Homo sapiens: one gene and its partner. The protein of the gene in region 1 interacts with the protein of each later gene in a biochemical or structural test. Each region holds a gene or a part of one and is shown in the gene's direction. Other genes may lie near its edges.

Region 1 (3,500 bases):
TTCTGGACATTTTAAATAATTTTTAAACCCTGTCCTTTCTGTTAATGTATTTCTTACCAGTAGGAATTTGGATACAAAGGTCTAAAAATCAGATTTGATACTACTACCACATTAACCTTTATATGATTCGGTTCATTATTCTCACCACAGCTACTTCTAAGGTTATTTCTGTTTAATAAGATTTTTAATTAGCCTGGTAAAAGTATACTTTTTTTGAGACAGGGTTGCCCAGGCTGGAGTGCAGTGGGATGCTAAAGGCTCACTGCAGCCTCAAACTCTTGGGCTCAGCCTCCTGAGTAGCTGAGACTACAGGCATGCACCACCACACCCAGCTAATTTTTGTATTTTTAGAGATGGGAGTTTGCCATGTTGGCCAGGCTGGTTCCAAACTCCTGACCTCAAGTGATCCACTTGCCTTGGCCTCCCAAAGTGCTGGGATTACAGGCATGAGCCACCACTCTGGGCCAAAAATGTAGATTTTGAGGGAAATTATCAGCTAAATAGTGTCAAATACGGACTATCCTTGGGACTTCTAAGCAGGAGAACTGAATGTGTAAAAACAATACTACAAGTACTTTATTGTTTTCTCTGCACTCACATAAAAATGTTGCAAGTGGGTATATAGGAGTGTCTATAGACCAAGAATTTTTGTTAATATACTAGTGCTCAAATTCAGAAAATAATTGTGGTCCATGGAATTGCCAGTACTTAAATTATTAAGGAAGCTGAGAAGAGTCTAATCCTCAAATTAAGCTAGGTCATATATTATCTGGGCTGTTCGGCCTCTGGGGTAAAAAAAAAAAAAAAAAATGGTGATCCTTACGGCAGCAATTGTGATGTCATTTTCAAGATTATGCTGTAAAATAACTCCCTCAGTAGCAATTAACACCTCAGAGTTCATTCATTTTATAAGTCCAAGGACAGCCCCTCTATTCCCTCAGTTACTTTAACTGCCCATCTTCAACTGTTACATTTTTCTCAATACATAGAAACCAGACTTGTATGCAGCATCACAGGGGCTTACTTCCTGTGCTTTTCTACAAAAGAAGAACAGAGTTAGTTTTCAGTGTTATTTTCAATACTCTTTCTGAAGATGCTCAGTATTGTGGGACATTTTAGATATAGCCATGTGTGGAATTAAAGGGTTCAGGGATTCCCCTATAATAACTCATGTGTGTCATCCTGGAATTTTAGTTTTCTTACTTTTCCTCATACTGTGCTTTCCTAATCTTACACTTCACCCTTATTGAAGTTTATCACTTTTCTGCCTGTTTACACGTTTGTTTGCACCTTGTATAATTTATATTTGTTTGCTTGACATCTACCTAGAATGATACCATCTCATTGGAGATTACTTCTTCTAAAAGAATATTTATTTCTCCACCTTCAATATGCATCAGAATAGAGCTCAACAATTGTAGATGCCTGGGCCCCACAGCCAGAGACTGGTGATGGGGAGCGGGCAGGCAGGCATTGCTGATTTTCTAAAAGTGAGTTAGGTGATTCCAGTGTGCAACCAGGATAGAAAGCCCCTAATTTAGGTAATTTATAAATGTACTCCTTAACATTGGTTGGGCCTGATCTTTCACTGAGTATTTCACTGTTAACACTTTGCTTCCCAATTCAGATCCATAAATTCTTAACCTGTTATCTTCTGAATTCCCAATTTATGGTGAAACTTAATTTTCCCAATTCCTCGCCAGCTCAGTATTTCTAACACTTGGTGTAATGTTTTGTTTGAGACATTTTTAAAACCTATTAATCATTGGCTCCTACTCATCCACAAACTTATGCTGCCACCGCCACTAACAACTCAATTATCTTTATGTCTACAAATACCCTGGCCCATCATAGTAAACACTTTAAATTCTTTGTTAAAGTGTTGTTGAAGATCATAGGTGTTCAATATATCTTTGTTGTTGACCCAGATGAAATCAGTCATGATTTATAGAAGTGATCCTATCCTTTATCATCAAATACAATTGGCCGTGGTTTGCTGACTCCTGTGTTAGCTATCCGTATTCTTAACATCTAATCCTTTTATCTCCCTGTATTTTAGTTGCTGCAGCAAACGAGATTGCTAAGGAAAGGAGGAAGCAAGATGTGGTTAATCGTGTTGCAACCCATTCCTCAAATATAAGATCGACATTTAAACCAGGTATAATTTCTCTGATGCTTTGATAGATGTCAAAGTGTCATATCTTTAAAATTTGATATCCTATTAATATCTAACTATATTCTTTTTTTTTTAGTAATCGATGGATCCATGCTTAAAAATGACATAAAACAAAGATTAGCAAGAGAGCGCAGAGAGGAGAAAAGGAGACAGCAAGACGGTATATTTTAGACCTTTTTTCAAAAATCAAAATGAATTGTGTTATATATTGCAAAGTGTTTTTAACTTATTCCTCCTAATTTGTTTATATGATAGAGTATAATTTTTATATTATGTATTATTTTGGATTAAATCCTTTTACTAAATCAGGCAAGAAGGCCCATGAAAATTCTTTGATTAAATTGTTTAATTTTTGAAGGAGTAGTTTATCTTAGCTTTGATTTTCTGAAAACTAAGGTCTGGAAATTTCTTCAATATTTGTAAAAACAATCAGAATGGGATTTCAGTAAAAGTGATTCTTTTTTTTTTGTTTTGTTTTGAGGCGGAGTCTTACTCTGTCACCCAAGCTGGAGTTCAGTGGCGCGATCTCAGCTCACTGCAGCCTCCGCCTCCCGGGTTCATGCCATTCTCCTGCCTCAGCCTCCCGAGTAACTGGGACTACAGTCACCCGCCACCACACCCGGCTAATTTTTTGTATTTTTGGTAGAGACGGGGTTTCATCGTGTTAGCCCGGGTGGTCTTGATCTCCTGACCTCGTGATCCACCCACCTCGGCCTTCCAAAGTGCTGGGATTACAGGCGTGAGCCACCGCGCCTGGCCAGTAAAAGTTATTCTAAAAATGAAAATAAATTGCCAATAATCCTAACATAGATAAGATGAAAAGCATGTTACCAAGTTGTAAAAAGATTATCCTTTTAGATCCTAATTTATACAGAGTCACACTTCAGAAGCATTTAGTGAGGGAAAATTTGAATATAGGAAAAATTTTGCTCTCCTGTAATATGGTATATGGTTAAGTCCATTAATGTAAAACTGGCATGTTTAATATGGTCTGTATAGATGAGGACTTTGAAAGAAGTTTCCTAGTAGAAGGGAACAAAACATGTATCCTGGCCATGCAGTTTTTAATAATTAGTATTTTAATGTACAGCATATTAATATGGTAGGGTTTGACTTTAGCTCAAATCAGCAGAAATATCACATGAAAGAAAATATTTTTTCTTAATTTGGAATTGTAGTTTGGACAGGATGAGAGTCATTTGGCACAGACAATCCAGTTCTCCAGAGTTAAATGAATACTCAGTGAAAATGGTTCTGCAGTGGCTACCTCTGTTCACTTTTATAATAAATCTTTAGTTACTAGCACAGGTTGTGTTATTTTAAG
Region 2 (3,500 bases), on another chromosome or scaffold:
AGGTGCTCGCCACCACGCCTGGCTAATTTTTGTATTTTTAGTAGAGACAGGGTTTTGCCATGTTGGCCAGGCTGGTCTTGAACTCCTGACCTCAGATGATCCACTGCCTCAGCCTCCCAAAGTACTGGGATTACAGGCGTGAGCCACCGTGCCTGGCACAAGCAGTTTTCTCCCCTTCCTTCCTTCCTTCCTTCCTTCCTTCCTTCCTTCCTTCCTTCCTCTCTCTCTCTCTTTCCTTTCTTTCTTCCTTCATTCCTTCCTTCCTTCCTTCCTTCCTTTCTTTCTGACAGTCTCGCACTATTGCCCAGGCTGGAGTGCAGTGGCGCGATCTCGACTCACCACAACCTCTGCCTCCTGGGTTCAAGCAATTCTCCTGCCTCAGCCTCTCGAGTAGCTGGGAGTACAGGTGCGCGCCACCATGCCTGGCTAATTTTTGTATTTTTGGGAGAGATGGAGTTTCACTATGTTGGCCAGGCTGGTCTCGAACTCCTGACCTCGTGACCCACCCGCCTCTGCCTCCCAAAGTGCAGGGATTATGGGGGTGAGCCACCGTGCCCAGCTATGAGTGGTTTTGTTTCTATTTATTTATTATTATTCTATGAGACAGAGTCTCACTCTGTCGCCCACGCTGGAGTACAGTGGTGCAATCTTGGCTTACTGCAACCTCCGTCTCCTGGGTTCAAGCAATTCTTCTGCCTCAGCTTCCGGAGTAGCTGGAACGTGTGAGCCACCACCCCTGGCTAATTTTTGTATTTTTAGTAGAGACAGGCTGGTCTCGAACTCCTGACTTCCGGTGATCTGCCCACCTCAGCCTCCCAAATTGTTGGTATTACAGGCGTGAGCCACCGCACCTGGCCTCTATTTATTTATTTATTTTGAGATGGGGTCTTGATATGAATTCCTAGACTCATGCTTCTCATGCTTGCTACCACCCAGTCCTGCCTCCTGCACAGCAGTTTCCACTAAAGTCACCCCTTTACGAGAGGCATCTTTTTTTTTTTTTTGAGATGGTGTCTCACTCTGTCGCCCAGGCTGGAGTGCAATGGCATGATCTCAGCTCACTGCAAGCTCCACCTCCTGGGTTCAAGTGATTCTCCTGCTTCAGCCTCCCGAGTAGCTGGGACTACAGGCACCCGCCACCATTCCCGGCTAATTTTTTGTATCTTTAGTAGAGACGGGGTTTCACCATGTTAGCCAGGATGGTCTCGATCTCCTGACTTCGTGATCCACCCGCCTCGGCCTCCCAAAGTGTTGGGATTACAGGCATGAGCCACTGTACCTGGCCTACTAGAGGCATCTTAAAACACATCTCCTGTGTCTCCATTCCAAAGCGCATCTTTGTCTACACTCCTGGGGTCCTCCCACGTCAGCCTCCCAAAGTGCTGGGATTACAGTCATGAGCCACTGTGCCCGGCCCCACCAAATTGTTTTCTAACCTGCTTTTTTCTTGAGGAATCTTCTGCAGCACATGACTCACATGTAGAGCCCCTTGTTTCTTGAGGCCTTCATACCCGTCAGCTCATCTAAAAGTCACTCCTGAGGAGTAAGGGCAAGGGGCATTGGGAGAGGTCAGGCAGCCCTGGGAAGCCTCCCAGCGTGTGTCCCAGGAGGCCTGCTGCCTGCAGACACTGCTCCCAGACGCAGCGGCCTCGGCCATCAGAGCGTGTCCCACGATGAGGTGGCAACTTCCCTGAAGGGCTTGCTCTCACCCAGGGGTGTGGTTCTCCGTGTGCACACAGATAGATAGTTCTACGTTTGCCATATACCATTTATATGCCTCACACAGATTAACCCACTTTCATTTCAAAAAGACCTCCTGTCATCGTGCCCATTGTACAGATGAGGACACTGAGACACGGAATCCTAGTGACCTGTGCAAGGTCACACAGCTGGGAAGGGTGAGGGAAGCGTCTGTGAACCCAGCAGGCCCAGCCCCTGAGTCTAGGCTCCGCTCGGCAGCTGTCATGGGAGCAGAGTCCGAGAAGCACTGCAGGCACCTGCTCTAGGGGGAGAGAGGTGGAGGTGGCAGGTAGAGAGAGGACGACCCCTGGGAGCTGAGACGATGCCAGCCTCACACGGACAGGCTGGGTGACCTCAGGCAAGTCGCTTCCCATTTGGGACCCCAAGGACCCTTCTGCAGACCCAGCTGGGGGTCCCCGATGAGACTGGCTCTCAGAGTCCCTGTGAGTCCCGTCAGCTGAGGCCAGTAATGTCCTGGCACCATCACTGGACATGGTTTGCTCTCCCATGGAGGGGCAGGTGTAGCAGCCAAAAGCGATCCTGAGCTCTGGGCCTCTGAACCCTGCTCTGCCAGCTACTGTGGGTGTCTCTACCCGCTCTGTGTCTCAGTTCCCTTTCCTGAAAAGAGGGGATAGTAAAAACTAACCCTCAAGGTGTTTATTACCAATGCCCTTCATGGAGGAATCCGCTGCTCCAGGCCCTTGCCAGCAGCTGCACAGCTGGGCCTGGGGACCTGGGTGTGGGTCTGTTGAACCTTGGCCCACCCTGGGGCTGTGGTCGGCCTGGACGTGTAGGTGTGGAGGTGCATATTTATTATGGCAATTTTCTGACAGGTAACAGAGTGTGGGGCTCTCTTCTGAATGGGGCTCGTGGAGGCCGTGGGTCAAAAGCCCTAATTTTGTAGTGAGGGCTAAAAGGCTTCACAAGGGAAAGGGCCTGGCTGGGGCTATGGGCCGGTGCCGACCCCCCCTCTCCCACTTTGTTTGCAGTTCTGGGAAGTCATCAGTGATGAGCATGGCATCGACCCCAGCGGCAACTACGTGGGCGACTCGGACTTGCAGCTGGAGCGGATCAGCGTCTACTACAACGAGGCCTCTTGTGAGTGCCTGCCCCAGCCTCCCTATCCCAGCCCTGGACTGACCAGGTCTCAGCGTCTGACTGACCAGGTCTCAGCACCTGGACTCACCAGCTCTCAGCATCTCTGTCCTCCCATGGGTTAGGTTGGCTGAGATGCCAGCAGGCGTAACTGGATGTCAGGCATCCAGACGCACAGAACAGACAATAAATCACAGTCACAAAAGTGAGAGCCAAACATATTAGTGCCATGAGGGCCTGTGCGTGTCCAGGGGCACAGACAGGGATGGGGCAGGCCAGAGACTTTGGAGGCCATAAGAGGGCCTAGAGAAGGGGTCACCTGGAGGGCTTAGTCAGGGGCTCTTTAGCAACTGGTGTGAAGTGATTTCCATATCAAAGTGGTGATACACCCACCTGCCCACATGGACATGTGATTTAAAATTTTATTTAATTTAATAGAGACAGTCTCGATATGTTGCCCAGGCTGGTCTCGAACTCCTGGACTCAAGCGATCCACCTGCCTTGGCCTCCCAAAGTGTTGGGAGTGCAGACACGAGCCCCTGCATCTGGTGGACGTCTGACTGAATCCTGCCTGTCCTGCTCCGTCCTGTCCTGCTCCGTCCTTAAACACAGTGAGGCTTAAGGGTGAAGAAAGTTGCTGAAGCTTGCCTTTGGTCCAGGACTCT

Evidence for each region.
Region 2: the proteins of MAP7D3 (region 1) and TUBB3 form a complex in vitro, tested with the Homo sapiens proteins (one study listed by BioGRID).

What each region holds. Positions count from the first base shown.
Region 1 is NC_000023.11:136,244,901-136,248,400, reverse strand, and holds part of MAP7D3 (MAP7 domain-containing protein 3), read left to right. Parts: intron 1-2,059; coding exon 2,060-2,158; intron 2,159-2,252; coding exon 2,253-2,336; intron 2,337-3,500. UniProt on the Homo sapiens protein: Promotes the assembly and stability of microtubules.
Region 2 is NC_000016.10:89,929,842-89,933,341, forward strand, and holds part of TUBB3 (tubulin beta-3 chain), read left to right. Parts: intron 1-2,729; coding exon 2,730-2,838; intron 2,839-3,500. UniProt on the Homo sapiens protein: Tubulin is the major constituent of microtubules, protein filaments consisting of alpha- and beta-tubulin heterodimers. Microtubules grow by the addition of GTP-tubulin dimers to the microtubule end, where a stabilizing cap forms.